3 linked regions of the Homo sapiens genome follow. The protein of the gene in region 3 interacts with the protein of the main gene of each other region in a pairwise test. Each region holds a gene or a part of one and is shown on either strand. Other genes may lie near its edges.

What was found. Proteins that work in one complex are often made in the same cells at the same time.
Region 1: the proteins of PACSIN2 (region 3) and GSC2 interact in binary tests that used the Homo sapiens proteins (3 or more experiments, as listed by UniProt).
Region 2: the proteins of PACSIN2 (region 3) and PBX4 interact in binary tests that used the Homo sapiens proteins (3 or more experiments, as listed by UniProt).

Annotation. Positions count from the first base shown.
Region 1 is NC_000022.11:19,147,282-19,154,238, reverse strand, and holds the start of GSC2 (homeobox protein goosecoid-2), read left to right. Parts: upstream 1-3,946; 5' UTR 3,947-3,955; coding exon 3,956-4,214; intron 4,215-4,322; coding exon 4,323-4,576; intron 4,577-5,143; coding exon 5,144-5,248; 3' UTR 5,249-6,957. UniProt on the Homo sapiens protein: May have a role in development. May regulate its own transcription. May bind the bicoid consensus sequence TAATCC.
Region 2 is NC_000019.10:19,615,677-19,623,687, reverse strand, and holds the start of PBX4 (pre-B-cell leukemia transcription factor 4), read left to right. Parts: upstream 1-5,000; 5' UTR 5,001-5,058; coding exon 5,059-5,177; intron 5,178-8,011.
Region 3 is NC_000022.11:43,005,132-43,012,152, reverse strand, and holds part of PACSIN2 (protein kinase C and casein kinase substrate in neurons protein 2), read left to right. Parts: intron 1-7,021.

The DNA.
Region 1 (6,957 bases), about 24 Mb from region 3:
CATCTTAAAGAAAAAACTTTTCTTTATAGAGATGAGGGTCTTGCTATGTTGCCCAGGCTGGTCTTGAACTCCTGGCCTCAAGTGATTCTCCCACCTCAGCTTCCCAAAGCATTGGGATAACAGGAGTAAGCCTCCATGCCCGGCCCTAAATCTTGCTTTTTGAATCATATCTTCTTTCTTTTTATTATTGGTAGCTAGAAGAAGCCAAGTAGCACCTTGAACTTTCTCTCTGGGTATGTCCTTAGATCATTTTATTCTTGGGAATACTATCTAGCTTCTATTTCCTATTTGGCTACAGGTGACAATGTTGCTAAACTTCCTGCCACTGCATAACAATGGTCTTCTTTCCTCCATCTTCCAGTAACAATTTCTTCACTTTCCTCTAAGTCCCCACTGTCAGCCTCTGCAAGGTCCTCCCAGCTCCTGGACACTGCCCCATCCCAAAGCCAATGTCACATGATTTAGGTTTTGTATCAGCAGCACCCACCCCACTTCCAGTACCAGATCCCGTTCTGCTTATCTATAGTTATATAACAAACCACATCAAACTTGGTGCAGTAAAAACACCCAGCATCATCTATTTTATTATATTTCATAGTCATGGGGCTTGACTGGGCTCAGGGAGGGGATTCTCAGTTTTGGTGTCTCCTGTGGTTGCAGTCCAATGGTGGCCGGGGCCAGAGCCATCTGGAAGGCTTCCTCACTCACTTGTAGGTGACCCGTGCAGGGGGTGGATGGGTCCTTCAGCTGGTGCTGCTGGCAGGAACACGCCTATCCTCTCCCGAGGCTGCCTGTGCCCCTCACAGCATGGTGGCTGGGTGTAAAGATCAAGCATCCCAAGATGTGTGAGAGAGAGAGAAGGAGTTGGGTTGCTGATCTGATCTGTGTGACTCTGTGTGTGACTTGGCCTCAGAAACCACACGATGTCAGTTCTGCTGCATTCTATGGATTACAAGCAAGTCGTGAAGGCCAGCCCATGTTTCAGGAAGAAACCCAATTAAACTCCCAAAGGGAGCAGCATCAGAGAACCTGCCAGCATGTTTCAGAGGCGCCAGAGTGGCCAGGCACGGTGGCTCACACCTGTAACCTCAGAGCTTTGGGAGGCTGAGGCAGGTGGATTGCTTGAGGTCAGAAGTTCTAGACCAGCCTGGGCAACATAGTGAGACCCTATCTATAATTTTTTTTAAATTAGCCAGGCATGGTGGCGTGTGCCTGTGCTCCCAACTACTTGGGAGGCCGAGGTGGGAGAACCTCTTAAGCCCAGGTGTTCAGAGGCTGCAGTGAGCTATGGTCACCCACTGCACTCCAGCCTGGGTGAAAGAGCGAGACCCTGTCTCAAAAGTAAAAAAACAAACAAAAAAGGCCGGGCGTGTAATCCCAGCACTTTGGGAGGCCGAGGCGGGCAGATCACAAGGTCAGGAGATCGAGACCATCCTGGCTAACATGGTGAAACCCCGTCTCTAATAAAAATACAAAAAAAAAAAATAGCTGGGCATGGTGGCAGGCGCCTGTAGTCCCAGCTACTCGGGAGGCTGAGGCAGGAGAATGGCGTGAACCCGGGAGGTGGAGCTTGCAGTGAGCTGAGATCATGCCACTGCACTCCAGCCTGGACGACAGAGCGAGACTCCGTCTCAAAAAAAAAAAAAAAAAAAAAAAAGGGAGGGGGGCAGGCCAGGCAGGCACGGTGGCTCATGCCTGTAATCCCAACACTTTGGGAGGCTAAGGCAGGCGGATTGCTTGAGCTCGGCAGTTTGAGACCAGCCTAGGCAACGTGGCAAAACCCCCCCAAAACAGAAACATTAGCTGAGCATGGTGGTGCACCTGTAGTCCCAGCTACTTGGGAGGCTGAGGCAGGAGGATCACTTGAGCTCAGGATGCCAAGGCTGCAGTGAGCCATGATCACACCACTGCACTCCAGCCTGGGTGACAGAGCAAGACCCTGTCTCAAAAAATAATGCAAAATAGAAAATAAACTTTTTGAAAAAGTGCCACAGTGGGCCATTTACCAAGGTGGACTGGTAAAGAGGCAGGGCACACGCAGAGGCAAATAGGTAGAAGAGAATGAGCACTAGAGATGGACAGGTGGGCAGTGGCCCATTTGTAAAAGTGGAGAACATAGGGTAAGAAAGGGATTTTGAGAAGACCTTGAGTTCCTTTCTGGCATGGTGACTGGGAGAACTTTATTGGTAGTGGAGATGGAGATGTGGAGCAGGCTCCAGAAACAAGAGCGTGGAGCAGAGAGAGAGGCCAGGCTGGAGGTGCACTTGTGAGTCACTGTCACAAAGATGGTGTCTGGAGCTCCAAGGCTGGAATAGGTATTGAGGGTGAGAATGGGAAAGGATGAAGGAATGGCCAGGGCTAGGAGGAAGAGGGCTCAGCAAATGTTGGGCTGGCTCTCCTGACCAATGACCCTGCCTCCCCCATCATAGCAGCACTCTGATTTTGGAGGATGGTCCAGATGCAGTTCTGTGAGGGAGGTCTGCTGAGGGAGGAGGGATCCATGGCCATCCAAAGGGCCATGGGAGGAGATGAAAAGTGTGGGGCTGTGGCAGCCATTCTACCACCAAGAGGTGGGTGGAGGAGGGGTTGACAGAGCCACTCATGGAGGTGGCAGCTCATCACTGAGCCTCCAGACTACCCCTGGGAAACCTATGTGGGAGCTCTTGTGACAGAAATTAAATCAGCAGGTTCGGTCACAGTGATGTCCACAGCACTTTCACTGATAGCAGAGTGGGGATGGCAGAGTCTTGCAGAGGGGCTGGCGGCGGGAGGAGCGCAGGAATACGCATTGCCCTGGGGAGGCGGCCAGGTTCTAACCGTCTCACACCTAGTCACTACACTTTACAGATTGGGAAAGCCAAGCCCAGAGGCTGAAGACGCCTATGGAGGTCACACGGCCAGAAATTGACAACGGAGTATGAGCCAGGCCGTCTGTTTCTCTGTGCTATGAGTCCCATACTGTATTTTCAAAGGTCAAGAGGAAAGGGTCTTAAGCTGAAGTGACGGTCCCGCTGCCAGGAGCCGCTTCACTGAGGGTGAAACAATGTAGCCAAGTGCGGGTCACCTGCGCTGTGGCAGAAGGGACCGAGGACGGTGTGGCCAGAGGACTGGCCTGGGCGGAGAGCGAGGAGGGGGAGCCCACAGCTTCTGGGGGGCAGTGACAGTGCGGGGAAGGGCGAGGTGCAGTGTTGGATGTTTTCGCGGGGATTCTGGGACCAGTGGGAAAGCTGGAGGACAGGCGGCTCTGAAGCACCGAGGAGGGGCCTCGGAAGGGGCGGGGAGGTCTCCTTGACACAGGTGAGGAGACGGAGAACTGGGGGCACCCGGCAGCCCAGGCTTCCTGCCGCGCTCTCACGCCCTCCAGGGCCATGAGACCCTGGCTCCGAGGTGGCGGGCAGGTTCGGGACCCGAGCGCGGCGGGATCGTGCGGTTGCCGGTGGTGCTGGGCCCCATGGAGGCTGCGGTCCAGGAGTTTCGGGTGGGCGGCTAGGCCGAGCTTCTGCAGGCGTGCTGAGCCGCCGCAGTAGGGCCCCAGAGGGGACGAGGAATTAGGCCCAGCCGAACGAGGGGGAGCCACCAGAGGCTGGGCCGGGAGGCACCGCCGCGCTCTGGGGAGCTGCCAGGGTCGGGGCGCCCTCCGAGCGGCTGCCAGGCCCCGCGGGCGGCGGCGAGGCGGCCCTCCGCCCCTTCCCCGCAGGTCGCCCTGCCAGCTTGAGCGGCGGGCGCGGGTGGGGCAGGAGGACGCGGGGCGGGGTGGGGGGCACAGGGGGCCCTCTCTGCAGCGCCCCCGGCCCCCGCGCGCGGAGGCAGGGCCGCCGCAGTCGAGGATTAGCGCGTTCGCGGCCGGCGCTGCGGGATTAACCCGCGTGGACTGGACGCCCGGCCCGGGGATTACTGCGCGCTCCCTCCCCGACGTATATATTCCCGCGGCGGCGGCGCCCCGGCCGGGCCGGGCATGGCGGCAGCGGCTGGGGGCGCGGCGAGCCGCCGGGGTGCCGGGCGGCCCTGCCCCTTCTCCATCGAGCACATCCTCTCCAGCCTGCCCGAGCGGAGCCTCCCGGCCCGGGCCGCCTGCCCACCGCAGCCCGCCGGTCGCCAGAGCCCCGCGAAGCCAGAGGAGCCCGGGGCGCCCGAGGCTGCGCCCTGCGCCTGCTGCTGCTGCTGCGGCCCCCGCGCGGCGCCCTGCGGGCCCCCAGAGGCGGCCGCCGGGCTGGGTGAGTGGGCGCGGAGCGGGGCGCGGGGCCCGGCGGAGCCCGGGGCGCGGCGCAGTGGGTGCCGAGCTTGGCCCCAGCCCCGCGCCTCACCGCGCCCTCGCTCCGCAGGCGCTCGTCTGGCGTGGCCGCTGAGGCTGGGACCGGCGGTGCCCTTGTCTCTGGGTGCGCCAGCCGGAGGTTCCGGGGCGCTCCCGGGCGCGGTCGGCCCGGGTTCGCAGCGGCGCACGAGGCGCCACCGCACCATCTTCAGCGAAGAGCAGCTGCAGGCGCTCGAGGCGCTTTTCGTGCAGAACCAGTATCCTGACGTGAGTACGCGCGAGCGCCTGGCCGGCCGCATCCGCCTTCGCGAGGAGCGCGTGGAGGTGAGTGCCCCGCCCAGCCTTTCCCCGGAGCGCGCGGGCCGCGGCTACACTGGACTGGGGTCCTGGCGGGCGGGCGCCCTTTGCAAAGACGGCCTCGGCCCAAGCCCCGCCCTGGCGCGCCGGAGGGAGGAGGTCCCTGGACGGCGCTGGGCGTCCGGGGGTATGAGGAGCGGGTGAGAGCAGGGAGGTGCCGCGGGAAAGGAACCGGAGGGCTACTTTTCTTTTCTTTTGTTTTACACTTTCCTCTGGTGACGAAAGAGGCCCGCGTTCACGTCCAGAATTTGGGAAATTCAGAAGAGCCCGCAACCCAAGAAGGGGCGTCCTGGTCGCCGCCAGCTGGAGGCTGGGGCGGGTACTAAGGGGGTTCCCATCTCGCGTCCAGACCCACCGAGTCTGTCCGCAGCGAATAAGGGCAGGTGGCGCGCAGCCGCGGCCCGGGTGTCGGCTCTACAGCGCCGTCCGCCCACATCCCTGTTGCGAAGCTCCCCTCTCGGTCCCTGTGGGACCCTCGGGAGCCGGTGGGACGCAGGACCTGGGGCTAGGGCTGAGCATTCCCCCCATCCCCAGGTCTGGTTCAAGAACCGCCGGGCCAAATGGCGACACCAGAAGCGCGCGTCGGCTTCCGCGAGGCTCCTGCCCGGCGTCAAGAAGTCCCCGAAGGGGAGCTGCTGATGACTCTAGGAGCTGCCCCTGGGCTCGGCCACCCTTTTTGGGATCTTTGGAGTTGGCGCTGAGAGAAGACAGGTCTACCCGAAAAGGAGCTGGGAGAGTACACCGGCCGCCTCCACCCGTCTCCACAGCCCTTGCCTCCTGCAGCTCGTGCTGCCGTGGCGCTGGGGACGGGCCCCCGGTGCTTGGTGTTCCACGGCAGTGGGAGTGGCGAGTCCCTTGGGGGTGGGCTGGGGCATAGAGCAGTTTCCTCAGCTCCCTACCCCCCGAGAGACACTAACTCCACCGCAGGAGGGGAACCACCCCGTATCAACACGGGACCCAGAATCCTACGCAGTGGAGCGTCTCTCCGCACCCTGGGACATGCTGGCCACCCTCTTCTCAATGTGGACATTGACCTAACTTGACCTGGCTCGTCCTCCCCCAGCGGGAGAGGGGATGGGGTTCGTGTCTGTGCAGTCCTGGCGTTGCAGGCTTCCCAGGCCCTGGGCTGGGTCTTGGTATCTGGACCTGTAGAATAAGAAGGTCGCAGGAGCGATTCCAGGAGCCCCTCCACAGTCCCTTCACCTTCGAGCCTCGCGCTGATACTGAGAAACTAGCAACTTCAAATACCACAGAAGCCGCCCAGAGTCTCAAGTCCACCTTGGCTCCACTCCCACACCCAACAAGGAGCTGTCCCTTCTTCTTCCTTCCCAGCGAGGGGGTATTTAGGGTACAGCTGTCTTTGAGAGGAGCACAGCTCAGCGATCCTCAGTCTCTGCACCAGGGTGCTCCCCAGCAGAGGGGACTGCTCCACGGATGGTGGCCTTGGACCCCTGGGGTCCAGCCCTGGCCTCTAGGCTACTGTGAACCTGCCCATGGGTGAGGGTCCCCTGCTTCCTCCTGGGGTTTTCATGCTGTGGGCTCGGACTCCCTCACAGCAATCTGTGCCATCCTAGGGTAGGGCAAGAGGAGGTTGGACTGGGGAGACCCCGCCCCTGCTGCCTGGGAAGATGCCTGCCCTCCCCTTCTTTATCCTGGCCCATGGCAAAAGGCACAGTGGAAAGAAGCCTTAGATTCCCCAAGTAGGCCCTACAGTGGGTCCAAAGCATCTCACATCCCCACCCCCAGCTGGCTTGAGCACCTCGTTCTGTCTCCTTACAGGCCCTGCAGGGAATGGGGCCATTCTACCTGCAAGAGATGAAGTCCATCTCTAAAAGCAGGACTGCAGAAGCCAGGGCTGCAGCTCCCCAGACACCCCAAGGCTGGCCAGCTTGGATAACACCAAGCAAGCATGGTGTCCCCAGTCAGAACTGCCCTGACACTGCTGGGTGTCCCTAGCATCCCCGCCTCCACCCCTAGCATGCACACAAAGCCCTTCTCCCTGAACCCTGGTCTTGCCCTTGGGGACTGAACAGACTACCTGTGGACATGCCCGTGTCCCAGTCAGCTCCCTTGCAGCTGGGGACACTCGCATCTCACAGGCTCCAGGCCCCTTGAGTTCCTTGGTTGAATGGCCATCTGTCATTGTTTTGGGAGCCCCGATCAGAGCTTGTGGAGCGCCACCTTCCAGGGCTCAGTGGCTGTGTTGCTCTCCTGAATTTGCTTCTTGAGCTCTAGCTGCTCCTTGGCAGGCTGACCCCCCACAGCAGGCTATTAACATAGGCATCCTTCACGCTCACACCCAGGCGCTCGCTTCTCATCTTCACCCTCTTCCCGGTTTATCTTTTACC
Region 2 (8,011 bases), on a different chromosome or scaffold from region 3:
TAAACCTTTCTTTACACTCTGAGGTCTCCAAAACATTTGTTGTTATCAATTCAGTGTTTCTGTCCCTGTGTCCCGGAATTGTCTACCTTGGCCCAAGTCCAGAAAGGATCTTTCAACATGGTATCTCCTTGGCCCTGTGCTCGCTCTTCTTCAGTCTGGCTGGCTGTTATTCCATCTCTCTCTTTTTTTTTTTTTTTTTTTTTAGACAGAGTCTCACTTTGTAGCCCAGGCTGGAGAGCAGTAGCACAATCTCAGCTCGCTGCAACTTCTACCTCCCAGGTTCCAGATTCTTGTGCCTCAGGAGAAGCTGGGATTACAGGCGCGTGCCACCACGTCCAGCTAATCTCTGTATTTTTATTTTTATTATTTATTTATTTGTTTGTTTATCTTTGAGAGGGAGTCTCGCTCTGTCACCCAGGCTGGAGTGCAGTGGCTTGATCTCAGGTTACTGCAACTTCTGCCTCCTGGGTTCAAGCGATTCTCCTGCCTCAGCTTCCCGAATAGCTGGGTTATAGGCATCTGCCACTACACTCGGCTAATTTTTGTATTATAGTAGAGATGAGGTTTCACCAATGTTGGCCAGGCTCGTCTCAAACTCCTGACCTTGAATGATCCACCCACCTCAGCTTCCCAAAGTACTGGGATTACAGGTGTGAGCTACCGCGTGCCTGACTAATCTTTATATTTTTAGTAGAGATGGGGTCCCACCATGTTAGTCAGGCTGGTCTCGAACTCTTGACCTCAAGCGATCCACCTACCCACCTTGGCCTCCCAAAGTGCTGGGATTATAGGCATGAGCCACCACGCCTGGCCCCTCTCTCTTACTGGGGTCTTGAATCTGTTTCTCTCTGCTTCTGTTCTTTGTTTCCCCCATCTGTTGCTCTGCCTCCATCTCACTGCCTGTCTCCCTGTCTTTCTCTGCAGCTCAGAGTAGTGTCTGGACCCTATGAGCCCCCTCCCTCCCCACTGCCCTTTTGTTTGAGCCCTGATGGTTCAAGGTCACGTGCCCAGCCGTTTCTATCCCATTCCCCACCACCTGTATTCATACTTCCAGCCACAGGTTGTGGGGTTCAGGTAGTGGGATGCAGGATTTGAGCATGACCATTTCTCAAGCTCTTCTGATGTGCCTGGCATACTGGTAAACACTTTAGGTGCTTTTTTTTTTAAATTTTTTATTTTTTTGTGATGGAGTGTCACTCTGTCCTCCAGGCTGGAGTGTAGTGGTGCAATCTCGGCTCGCTGCAACCTCCGCCCCCGGGTTTCAAGCGATTCTCCTGCCTCAGCCTCCCAAGTAGTTGCGATTACAGGCACCTGCCACCGTGCCCGGCTAATTTTTGTATTTTTGTTAGAGATGGGGTTTCACCATCTTGGCCAGGCTTATCTTGAACTCCCGACCTTGTGATCCACCCGCCTCGGCCTCTCAAAGTGCTGGGATTACAGGCATGAGCCACTGTGCTGGGCTTTTTTTTTTTTTTTTTTTTGAGACGGAGTCTTGCTCTGTTTCCCAGGCTGGACTGCAATGACGTGATCTCAGCTCACTGCAACCTCTGCCTCCCAGGTTCAAGTGATTCTCCTGCATCAGCCTCCCGGGTAGCTGGGATTACAGGGATATGCCACCACACCCAGCTAAATTTTTTATTTTTAGTAGAGATGGGGTTTCACCATGTTGGCCAGGCTGGTCTCGAACTCCTGACCTCAGGTGAGCCGCCCGCCTCAGCCTCTCAAAGTGCTGGGACTATAGGCGTGAGCCGCCATGCCTGGCCTTTTTTTTTTTTTTTTTTTTTTGAGACAGAGTCTCACATGATCTCAGCTCACTGCAACCTCCGCCCCCTCCAGGTTCAAGCGATTCTTCTGCCTCAGCCTCCCAAGTAGCTGGGACTACAGGCATGCACCACCATGTCTGGCTAATTTTTTGTATTTTAATAGAGATGGGATTTCACCATATTGGCCAGGCTGGTCTTGAACTCCTGACCTCATGATCCGCCTGCTTTGGCCTCCCAAAGTGCTGGGATCAGTCTTTCTGATTTTTATGTGAGAACACTGATTCAGACAGGTTGTGATCTGGCCCATGGTAAACACAGCTTGGAGATGGCACATACAGGCCCCGAGGGACCAGAGAGGCCCCTAGGAAAGGGACTTCAGATTCCCACGAAGCCCAGGGTTGGTCCCAAGCTCAGCTGGGCTTTCCCTACCTCACCCCACAGCACCCAACCCATGAGTGCCAGATCCATCATGAGCCCCCTCTGAGATGCTCAGGGAGGCCCCCTCCAAGGCACAGTGTGTGCCAGGATGTCATTCTCTGCTCCCACCTCACCAGTGAGGAGGTGGGGTTATGTCCCTACTTTTGAATCCCATGCTGAATAACAGCTAGAATTTGAACCCAGGTCACTCAGAGATGTGAGCCGCCATGCCCAGCCACCTGTGCCAAATTCTTAAACCACTGAAATATGCATTGTCAAAGAACCCAAAACTCCCAGGTCCTTCTATATTAAATGGCCCTGGCCGAGCACTTTGAGTGCCAAGGCTGCCAACTAATTTCTATGCAGTAGAGACCCCTGATGACCTCCAAATGGCAACAGTGGGACGGGTGAGGTGGCTCATACCTGTAATCCCAGCACTTTGGGCGGCCGAGGCAGGCAGATCACCTGAGGTCAGAAGTTTGAAACTAGCCTGGCCAACATGGTGAAACCTCATTTCTACTAAAAATGCAAAAATTAGCCGGGCGTGGTGGTGGGTGCCTGTAAGCTACTCAGGAGGAGGCTAAGGCAGGAGAAGTGCTTGAACCCAGGAGGTGGAGGTTGCAGTGAGCCAAGGTCACGCCACTACACTCCAGCCTGGGCAACAGAGTAAGATTTCTGTCTAAAAAAAAAAAAAAAAAAAAAAGGCAACTCTGTCTCAGGCGCTCTGAGCTGGCTGTTCACATCAGCTCCTCCAGGTTTTAACCTGCACCCCGTGGGTCTCCTTCGAGACCATTTCCTCTTGTCGATCTCCCGTCTCCACCAAGTGGCTTCAAATTTTTGTCTCTGCTGGTCCCTGAAGCTTTCAGTGCCCACCCCTCCAAGTTCTCTGAAGGATACTACTTTGTTGGGGTTGGGGGCAGGTTTTGCTCTCTCACCCAGGCTGGAGTGCAGTGGCACAAACACAGCTCACTGTAGCCTCGACCTCCTGAGCCCAACTTATCCTCCCGCCTCAGCCTCCCAAGTAGCTGGGACCATGACCAGCTAATTTAGCTATTTTTTTAATTTTTATTTTTGTAGAGATGGGGTCTCACTATGTTCCCCAGACTGGTCTTGAACTCCTGGGCTCAAGTAATCTCCCACCTCAGACTCCCAAAGTGTTGGGATCATAGGTGTCAGCCACTGCACCCAGCCTGAAGGCCACTACTGTTCAGGCCTCCTGGGCAGTGCTGTGCTTGTGGGTGACCTTTTGAACAGGCACTGGTCTCCGTGGCTCCCATGCAATCTATTACTTTCTGTCATTGGAGCCAAGTGTCGGTTTCCTTCATCAGAGAGCTTTCCCTATTGTCCAGACACTCGGTCAATGTCTTTCATTTTTCACTCCCTGCCGTCCCCTTTGGAGTCTCCCGACGCTCTCCAATCCAGCCATACCAGATGGTGTTTGAATTTCCTCCCCAGCAGCAATGGAGAGAACGTGGGCCCCACCCTGGAAGGGCTCCCAGCCAGCAGGCTGAGGACCTTTTACTGAGCCCACATCTGGAGACTGTCCTCATAGCAAATAGGCTCCAGGAGGTTCTGTGACTTTGGAGAAGAGATTCATGTCCAGGCCATTACTTTTTTTTTTTTTTTTTTTTTTTGAGACCTGGTCTCCGTCAACCAGGCTGCAGTGCAGTGGTGCAATCATGGCTCACTGCAGCCTCAAATTCCCAGGCCCAAGTGATCCTCCCACTTCAGCCTCTCAAGTCCCAAATAGCTGGGACCACAGGCGTGCACCACCACGGGGTCTCACTATGTTGCCCAAGCTGGTCTCAAACTCCCGTGCTCAAGTGATCCTCCCGCCTCTGCCGCCCAAAGTGCTAGGATTACAGGCATGAGCCACCGCCCAGTTCCTTTTCTTGTGCACTAGGAGCCTTCGATGCTGTGTCCTAAGGACTAGAAACAAAGATGTGAGGATTCGCTCTGATTTGGGGTACACTGCAGGGGAGTCTCTCAGTAAACATCCTTCCTTCATTCGGTAACCACGTGGTAGCATTTTCTATGCCCAGAACTGTAATCTGCGAAGATGAATAAACAAGCGAGGTCACTCTTCAGCTGGACCTTGAAAGGTGACTGGAATTGATTTCTGCAGTGGAGAAAAGCGCTGCGTTCTGACCTCCTCGTTGCCATCAACCACGCACGCCTGCGCCCCGCCTTAGCCAGGTGAACGGGGCGTGGAAAGCTCTAGAGGAAGAGCCAGGGGCCCCAGTGGCCCACCTGATGGGGCTGAGGATGCAGGGAGCATTAGGGGGACTGAGCAGGGGTCTGGGGCTTGGGGCTTCTGGAAATGAATGGGGGCTGTCGATCAAGCTATAAGAGGTGTGGGGTTCTGAGGAGGAGGGGGTGGCTTGGAGGAAGAGTTGGGGTGCTCTGGGGAGTGAGGGTCTCTGAGGACCGAGGGCTTTGAGGAGAAGGGGGCCCTGAGGAGGAGCAGGAACTCTGAGGAGATGCGAGTGGGGCTGAAGGAGGCGTGCACCGCGCGAGATGTGAGGGATGGGGGCCTCTGGCTGGAGCGGAGCCAGCGCTGCCCTCTCTCAAGGGGAAGGAGGGCGCTTATGAGAAGTGCCGTTGCCTCGGCAACCCCAAACCCAGTCCAAGCCCGGAGAGGGGGAAGTTCGGGGCGAGTCCCGGGGGCGGTGCGTGGCGCCGGTTGGCTGACGGAGATGAAGGGGCGTGTCTGTAGGCGGTGCAATACACGGGTTGGCTGGCGATAGCGGCGGTGGGCGTGGCTTAGGCGCGAGCGAGAGCGGGCGCGGCGCTCAGGCAGCGGCGGTTGGCTGCGGCGCCAGTGGTAGTGCTCCAGGCTCGACGGCACCCTCACAGCGCCCGCCCGGCCCTGCCGCTCATGGCCGCCCCGCCGCGCCCCGCGCCATCGCCCCCCGCCCCGCGGCGCCTCGACACGAGCGACGTCCTGCAGCAGATCATGGCCATCACCGACCAGAGCCTGGACGAGGCACAGGCCAGGTGCTGCCCGCGGGCTCGGCAGGGGCCACGCAGGGTCGTGGCAGTGAGGTTGGCGGGCTGAGGGGACGGGGCGTGGAGGCCAGACTGACGAGGGGCGCTTGAGGAGGGCTGGAGGGGGGTCCCGAGGACGAAGGGATGTATGGGGTTCAAACGGAACGGGCTGGATAGGCCTTATGGGGCCGAGCAGTGGCGTGAAGGATTTTCAGCAGCTCATCTTGGGGCGAGAAGGTTGGGTTTAGGGGTTTAGGGAGTAGGGCTGAGAAATGGGCACGTACGGGACTTTTGACGAGTGAATGACTAAATGGGTACGTTAATGGGACTCCTGCGGCTGGAAGTTTTTTTGTTGTTGTTTGACACGGTCTTGCTCTGTCGCCCAGGCTGGAGTGCAGTGGCGTGATCATGGCTCACTGCAGCATCCACCTCCCCGGCTCAGTTGATTCTCCTGCCTCAGCCTCCCGAGTAGCTGGGACCACAGGCGCACGTGCAACCACGCCCGGCTGATTTTTTTGTATATTTTGTAGAGACAGGGGTCTCGCTATAGTTGCTTAAACTCCTGGGTTCAAGCACTCATTCCGTCTCGGCCTCCCTAAGTGCTGGGATTACAGGCGCGAGCCACCGAGCCCGGCCTGTGGGTGGGAAGTTTCCAGGGCAGATGATGGAGAGTGAGTGGCTGGGAATGGGACTCAGGAATGTCTGCAGGAGACTGAAGAACTGAACTGGGGTAACTTGGTGTGGGAACCATCGAGAACTTTTGGGAAAAGGGTTAGTAGAGGAGTGGGTGGAGATGGAAGACCTATTTTCTTTTTAATGAATTCAGCAAATTTTTATTGAATCCTTACAATAACTGGATAGGGAACCGGGTGCTGACATAGTCCCTGCTCTCGAGTACATGATTTAGGGGAGGGAATGTAAATAGCAAAAAATAAGGACTGGGTGGAGTGGCTCACATCTCTAATCACAGCACTTTAGGAGGCTGAGGCAGGAGGATTGCTTGAGCTCAGGAGTTCGAGACCAACCTGGACAATGTAGTAAGACCTCGTCTCTACTAAAAATAAAATTAAAAAATTAGTTAGGTGTGATGATGCAAGCCTGTAGTCCCAGCTACTTAGGAGGCTGAGGCTGCAGTGAGCCGAATCAAGCCATTGCACTCCAGCCTGGGTGACAGAGCTAGACCCTGTCTCAAACAAAAGCAAAAAAGTATAAGCCAGGCATGGTAGCATGGGTAGGTAATCCCAGCTGCCTCCCAGTGGGAGGATCACTTGAGTCCAGCAGTTTGAGACCAGCCTGGGCAACATAGTGAGACCATCCTGTACCAATCTGAGAAAAGAAAAAAATAAAATAAATGGCAATAAAAGCTGTAGGGATAGGGGTTGCATGCTATAGGAAGCCAGGTGGAGAAGAACATCTTTGGAGAGGACAGCACCTTCAGAGGCCCTGAGGTGGGAAAGAGGATGTAAAAAGCGGAGTCTGGCTGGGAAGAGAAAGTTCCTAGCCAGGGAGGGAAAGAGTTGAGTTTAAAGGAAGGCTGGGGCCAGGTGCGGTGGCTCACGCCTGTAATCCCAGCACTTTGGGAGGCCAAGGCAGGTGAATCACGAGGTCAGGAGTTCAATACCAGCCTGGCCAACATGGTGAAACCCAGTCTCTACCAAAAATACAAAAATTAGCTGGGTGTAGTGGTGCACACCTATAATCCCAACTACTTGGGAGGCTGAGGCAGGAGAATCACTGGAACCTGGGAGGCGGAGGCTGCAGTGAGCCGAGATCACACCACTGCACTCCAGCCTGGGCGACAGAGCGAGATTCCGTCTGAACAAAAAATAATAATAATAATAAAGGGAGACTGGAACCCAATTACATGGGGCCTACGAATCTCAGTAAAGAGTTTTGTTTGTTCAGCCAGGCACAGTGGCTGACACCTGTAATCCCTGCACTTTGGGAGGCCAAGGTGGGCAGATCACCTGAGGTCAAGAGTTCGAGACCAGCCTGGCCAACATGGCAAAACCCCATCTCTACTAAAAATACGAAAATTAGCTGGGCGTGGTGGTGCATGTCTATGGTCCCAGCTACTTGGGAGGCTGAGGCAGGAGAAACACTTGAATCCAGGAGGTGCCTGGGTTCAAGCGCCACTGCATTCCAACCTGGGCGACAGAGTGAGACTCTGTCTCCATAAAAAAATAGTTTTGTTTTTGTCATCTGGATAACAATCAATAGGGAGTTCGGACTATTTATTCCAGTTGCAATGGGGAAAAATAAAGGAGTTTTTAGACCTCCCATCCCGTTTACCTCCACTCACCACTTGTCAGCCAGCCAGGATCCGTAGAATCTGCTTCACAAGGCAGCCCACTGTGTCTGGGTCCTGCAGTGATTATTACAGAAAAGGAAAGGAAAGGACTGAAGTCCTTTTGGAGGATGAGGCCTTGTTGAATGGGGACTGTTGTAAGGTGAGGGACGGTCTCTGGGTATGGGACTAGGGTCTGGTGGTGTGGACTGTGTACCCACTAGAGCCCTGTAGTGGGGAGGGGTTACAAAGCCAGGTAAACAGCAGTCCTAGGAAGGAAGAGGCAGATAAAAAGGTGGATAATGCATGCATTTGTTCTTCAATGAATTGTGTGTGTGTGTGTGTGACGGACTCTCACTCTGTTGCCCAGGCTGGAGTGCAGTGGCGCTATCTCGGCTCACTGCAACCTCTGCCTCCCGGGTTCAAGCGATTCTCCTGCCTCAGCTTCCTGAGTAGCCGGGACTACAGGCATACGCCCCATGCGTGGCTAGTTTTGTATTTTTAGTAGAGATGGGGTTTCACCGTGTTGGCCAGGCTGGTCACAAATTCCTGACCT
Region 3 (7,021 bases):
ATTTATTTTGAGACAGAGTCTCGCTCTGTCGCCCGGGCTGGAGGCAGTGGTGCGATCTCAGCTCACTGTAACCTCTGCCTCCCAGGTTCAAGTGATTCCCCTGCCTCAGCCTCCTGAGTAACTGGGACTACAGGCATCCACCACCACGCCTGGCTAATTTTTGTATTTATAGTAGAGACGGGATTTCACCGTGTTGGCCAGTATGGTCTCGATTTCCTGACCTTGTGATCCACCTGCCTTGGCCTCCCAAAGTGCTGGGATTACAGGCACCTGCCACCTTGCCTGGCTAGTTTTTGTATTTTTAATAGAGATGGGGTTTTACCATGTTGGCCAGGCTGATCTGGAACTCCTGACCTCAGGTGATCTGCCCACCTCAGCTTCCCAAAGTGCTGGGATTACAGGCGCCTGCCACCTTGCCTGGTTAGTTTTTGTATTTTTAATAGAGATGGGGTTTCACAGTGTTGGCCAGGCTGATCTGGAACTCCTGACCTCCAGTGATCTGCCCGCCTCGGCCTCGCAGATGTCCTTGCCTTTTGTTTCTTCTCTATACCTTGAAAGTCTGTGCTGTGTTAAGGGCGTCATGCTCAGGCTTACTGATTCTGAAGGGGTTATCAGTGGATGATTCCGGATGTTGTGGAATATCAAACAGATCGAAAAGTTTCTTTAATAATAGTGATGGCACCTTGTGTTTAGAGTTCGCAGTGGCATTTACCAGATGCTCTCTGGCCACCTTCATGTGAACCTCCCAGCTGACTCGGGCCTGCTTTATCTGCCATCAGATTGTAATGGCAGCTTTGTGGAGGCCGCCCTGTAGATTATGCGATTAATGACCACATTCATGTGAGCAATAGTGCTGGCTTAGTTTTTTTCCAGTTAGGTTGTTTGGAATGGTAGCTGCATACCTGAGGGCAGTGCAGCAATGCCTTAGTTACGAAGGCAGTTTGCATTCCACAGGTAGAGTCTTTCCTTATGGCCAGGGCACTGATCCCTCACATACCAGAAAGTATCATTCGTCCCTGCCCCAGACAGACTCCAGATGCGTCCCAGTGGTGGTTCTTGGGATAGTTTTGTAGGAATTTCTGCAGAATTTTAGTGTTCAGATGAGTATGCTCTGTCTGTGGACTGGAGACAGGCTTCAAAGAATTCTCAAATTATTCTGCACAATACATCATTTTTTGGTATCTCTGCAGTTCCAAAGGTAACTACTTGAGGGACAGTGGCCACCAAAGAGCACAAGTTTTGACATTTTGATGAAAAGCACACATAAAACAAATAAAAACCACCTTTCCTTAAGTTACCTATTGAATTGTGCTTATTCCCATAAATGCATGTTCATCTGTTTGCTTAATAAAACTTAAAGCACCATAGAGTCTTTCTTGTTTCCTAGAATAAGGTCTTTTTTCTTTTCCTTTCTTGTCTTTTTTTGTTGTTGTTGTTGTTGAGACGGAGTCTCGCTTTGTTGCCCAGGCTGGAAGTGCCCTGTGGTGTGATCTTGGCTCACTGCAGGCTGCGCCTCCCGAGTTCATGCCATTCTCCTGCCTCAGCCTCCCAAGTAGCTGGGACTACAGGCGCCCGCCGCCACACTTGGCTAATGTTTTGTATTTTTAGTAGAGACGGGGTTTCACTATGTTAGCCAGGATGGTCTTGATCTCCTGACCTTCGTGATCTGCCCGCCTCTGCCTCCCAAAGTGCTGGGATTACAGGCGTGAGCCACCGTGCCTGGCCGGTCTTTTTTATTTTCAATTAAAAAAAAATATATATATATATGTATTTTTAAACAGAGATGGGATTCCGCCATGTTTGCCAGGCTGGTCTCAAACCCCTGGCCTCAAGTGATCCTCCCATCTCGGGTTCCCAAAGTGCTAGGATTACAGGTGTGAGCTACCACACCTGGCCTATTTTCAATCCTAAAAAAATCATTTGCGTGTTTCTTGATTTTAGGCACTGAACTAGACGGAGATGAGAATATAGAAATAATAAAATGGGGCTGGGCGCTGTGGCTCACACCTGTAATCCCAGCACTATGGGAAGTAAAGGAGCAGATCACTTCAGGTCAGGAGTTCGAGACCAGCCTGGCCAACATGGTGAAACCCCATCTCTGCTGAAAATACAAAAATTAGTCGGGTATGGTGGCGTGCGCCTATAATCTCAGCTACTCGGGAGGCTGAGGCAGGAGAATCACTAGAACCCGGGAGGCAGAGGCTGCAGTGAGCCGAGATTGTGCCACTGCACTCCAGCCTTGGGTGACAGAGCAAGACTCTGTCTCAAAAAAAAAAAAAAAAAAAAATAGAAAAAATAAAATGATGTCTCAACTATCAAAGACCTCGCAAGAAGCCTTAAAAATGATAAATAAGGCTAGAGATTTTGCTGTACCTTTGGAAAGTGCATGTGTGGTGGTTTATAGTACATATTCTGTGGCCAGATAAAATTTATATGATTATTTTTCCTCCCAAGAATATGAGATGACAGAGGGGGAGGAGCGTGGATGGAGACTAGGAGCCTTGGGCTCTTGTCCAGCCTTTCCCTGACCAACCCTGAGGTCTGGGACAATCAGCACAGAACTCCAGGTCTCAGTTTTCATATTTGTAAAATGAAGGACTTAGAGGACCTTCACCTTTTGCAAATCTGATAGCAACTGTGACCCCTTCCCACGAAGGGGGACAGCTTCATAGGCGTGGACCCAGATTAAGAACTGGATTATTCCATCTCTAAGCTCCCTCTCACCTGTGATATTCTGTAATCCTATTTTCCTGGTCATCTTTGAGCTAATAATAATGATGACTTGTATTTATAGAAGATGCACATTCCAAAGCACTTTCACCTCTCATTCTTTTGTCCTCAAAACATTTCTGAGTGGTACAGGTGGCAATAGATATTCCTTCCTGTGATGAAGAAAGTGGGCCAGGCTTGGTCAGCACGTTGATGGAGCAAACAGCCAGAGGCCGTCCTGGGACCAGAACTGGGGCTCCTGGTTGCCATCCTGGGGCTTTTCCATTAGGTTTTGCTTCCTTGGTGGTTGTCATTATGAGTTATGTTTGGCAGTTCAAATATCCCAGAATGTGTCACTCGTAGAGGAAACTATTTGTTCATCTGCCGGAAAGGACTGTTTTTCTCTCTGAATTTGGATCACTAAACACCTTTTCTGTATGTGAAAAGGCTACTTATTTGTTTTTGTTATTTTTTCTTGCCACATTTTTCATAGGGACAGTTTGTAGGGCTTGAGTGTTTTGAGCAGACTTATTTAATGCTTATTGATGAAAGAGTACATTAAAATGACTACTTCTCAGTTGCTTAGCACTTGAGAAAGTTGTGAAATAAATGTTAAGTAAAAATTCCAAATGTCTCACTTGTCCTATCCAAGTATGTCCTCACAGATGAGATGCTTTCTGCAGTCTAGGAGGCCCCTCCCTGGGCCCAGAGCCGCTGGGTGGGTTTGAAAGTTGGGTGTGGATTGTGCCAGTGGCCAGGACTGTCCAACAGTGGCTGCTTGTGGCCTTCTGGCTAGATTCCTAACATTTTATGGACTAATTTTTTTGGTTTATTGAAAGAGTACACATTCTGAGCTATATAAAGAGCTCATATATGTAAAAGAACACTGAACTTAGGCCGGGCGTGGTGGCTAACGCCTGTAATTCCAGCACTTTGGGAAGCTGAGGTGGGCAGATCACAAGGTCAGGAGTTTGAGACCAGCCTGGCCAATATGGTGAAACCCCATCTCTACTAAAAATATAAAAACTAGCTGGTCATGGTGGTGCGTGCCTGTAATCCCAGCTACTGGGGAGGCTGAGGCAGGCGAATGGCTTGAACCCAGGAGGCGGAGGTTGCAGTGAGCCGAGATTGTGCCACTGCACTCCAGCCTGGGCGACAGAGTGAGACTCTGTCTCAAAAAAAAAAGAAGACCACTGAATTTTAGAGCCTCACAGATGTTAGGTGGCTTATTTCTGATGAAAATAATCATAATAAAGATGTTTTTTATTTTTATTTTTTAAAAGAATACTTCTGATGTATTTCTGAAAGCTGTTTTGAATACTCAGACATGGAAGCTGATAGTACTGCACACAGCAGGCATCACTCAATGTGGAGTGTGTGTGGAGAATCCACCTGTCTTCCTGTTATGTCATGTGTGATGTGACTATTGATAGAGTTGCAGCCAGCTGGGGCACTCCATTAAGCTGCCCGTGGAAGTACCTGCTTTTTATTTTCATTTCACTCCCTGGACTGAGAGTGTTTGGAGGATATCTCAGTGGCTCATGTGGAGGGAGCATCTGTGGGTGGAAGGCAACAGGCAGGGTGAGTCAGAGGTAGTGGTCCTGGCCACTGCATGCCTGGTGCCCCTGGCTCTGCCTGCAGCTCTGGAATCCTGAGATAAAGATGATGGCTGCTCTGTAAAGGCAGCTCAGTATAGGCAGCAGGCCTGGAAACTTCTCTTTTCATTGTGGCGGTACCAGATAGTAGTGTGTACAAAGTACTGCACGACAGAGGAGGGCGGGTCTGACTGTCCTCAGGACACTACAGAGAGCTGACCTTCAGGGAAGTGACTTGGGAGGGATTGTGCCAGAGCCACAGGTGCTCTCCAGGTGGGGCTGACGTGAAGGACCATTCTGGGCAGAGCTACAGAGCTCTGAAGAACAAGGAGTGGCTGGGAGAGAGGGGTCACGCCTGTAATCCCAACACTTTGGGAAGCTGAGGTGGGCGGATCACTTGAGGCCAGGAGTTTGAGACCAGCCTGGCCAACATAGCAAAACCCTGTCTCTACTAAAAGTACAAAAATTAGCTGGGCGTGGTGGTTTGTGACTGTGAACCCAGGTACTCGGGAGGCTGAGGCAGGAGAATCGCTTGAACCTGGGGGCAGAGATTGCAGTGAGCCAGGATAGTGCTACTTCATTCCAGCCTGGGTGACAGAGCGAGACTGTCTCAAAAAAAAAAAAAAAAAGAACAAGAGGTGTGTGTGAGAGGGGCTGCTAGGGGCAGGGAAGGCTCCAGGTTATGACCTGCCTTATATTCTCCTGGAGGACAGTTCACTGGGGAGCAGTTTCTGGGTATTTAAAATACCGGGATGAAGATCTTCAGAGAAGCAAGATGTCAGTTGAGAAGTCAGGGATGCAGATGGGGGAGGGGTGATTCAGGTGACTCAATTTCACAAAGGTCACCTCTGTCTCTGGGAGTCTCAAGGATTGCCATCTGTGTTCCTAGGAAGCAGTGGCTCCACTCTAATGAGAAGGGCTTTTCGAGTGGGAATGGCCTCAGCCTTGACTCATTCTCTTAACCTGCATTTACGTGTTTGGTTGAGAATGCAGTAGCTGTGTGGGTTCTGCTTCTCTTTCTTTTTTCTTTTTTGAGACGGAATTTTGCTCTTGTCGCCCAGGCTGGAGTACAATGGTGCGATTTCGGCTCACTGCACCCTCCACCTCCCAGGTTCCAGTGAGTCTCCTGCCTCAGCCTCCCAAGTAGCTGGGATTATAGGCATGCGCCATCATGCCGGGCTAATTTTTGTATTTTTGGTAGAGATGGGGTTTTACCATGTTGGCCAGGCTGGTCTCAAACTCCTGACCTCAAACGGCCCGCCTGCCTCTGCCTCCCAAAGTGCTGGGATTTCAGGCATGAGCCACCGTGCCTGGCTGTTTCTCTTTCCATATGGTTTATGCTTACAGATCCTTGAGGTTAATATGTCACTTTCACTGTTAGTTCCTACAGAAGAAAGGTAATTTTGCAATAAGGTTTTGGAGGTTAGGAACATGGTTTTGGAGTCATACAGCCCTTGGGTGTGGGTTCGAGCTCCATCACTAGGTGACTGTGCGGCTTTTGGCCAAATGTTTCAATGTCTCCAAAACTTGAGTGTCTTAGTCAGTTGGGGCTGCTATAACAAAGATGCGGTGGCTTGTAAACAACAGAAATTTCCTTCTTACAGTTCTGTAGGCTGCAAGTCTGAGATCAGGGTACCAGCATGGTTGGGTTCTGAGGAGGGTCCTTTTTCATGTTGCGGATTGCTGACTTCTTATAGCTTCACATGACAGAAAGAAGGCGAGAGAGCTCTCAGGTACTTTTTATAAAGGCATGAGTGGCTGAGTGCAGTGGCTTATGCCTGTAATCTCAACACTTTTGGAGGCTGAGGCAGGAGGATCACTTGATGCCAGGAGTTCATGGCCAGCCTGGGTAACATAGTGAGACCCTATCTCAACAAAAACTAAAAAAAAAAAATTGTAAGGACACTAGTCCCATTCATGAGGGCCCTGCCTAATTAGCTTCCAAAGGCCCTACTTCCTAATGCCATCAAACTGAGGGGTAGAATTTCAACATATGAATTTTGAGGGGATCCATACATGCAGTCCTTTGCACCAGGATACTGAGAGCCCTTCCTCATAGGATTTTGGCGGGGCAGCATGAGGTGATGGACCCCAGGAGCCCAGCATGTGTGCCTGGTCACAGTGCTCATTCAGTCACTCTCCTATCAGTCTACGTAAGTGAATTTGCCAGCAAACTATACCTTTAAAGTGCCCAAAGTGATTTTATCCAGTTCTATTTAAAAATCCTTCCAGAACTTTTTGGACCTTTCCTTGGTGACTCGGGGTCACGGGTGTAGTCGCAGGTCATTGGTGTGGGTGAGGCCTCCTGCCCTGGCCCTGCATGGACTCCCCTCATATCCTGGCACTTACAGGGCCTGTCTTTCTCCCCACCACCTTTTGTAAGCTGCTGTTGGCACCTGGCCCTTTTGTTGGGGTAAGGGCCTGATGATGGTCATATCCTCCCTGGGTTTTGAGGGCAGCCTTGCCATGCAGAGAGGCCTTGCTCTCTTCTGGGTTGGTAATTCTCTGCCTGAGTTTAATGTGATGGATTCTAGAAAGCCTGACCCTGGGGTGAAGGGATGTTGCTTGACTACACGTAGTGACTCAGGATTGGAAGGGAGTACTGGTAATGATAGCTTATCCCTAGGTGATGGGAAATAGGACTTAGAAAGCAAATGATAAAGGTGTGAGCACTGCTCACCTGTGTGAAATTGTATTAAGATAACACGCAGCAGTGA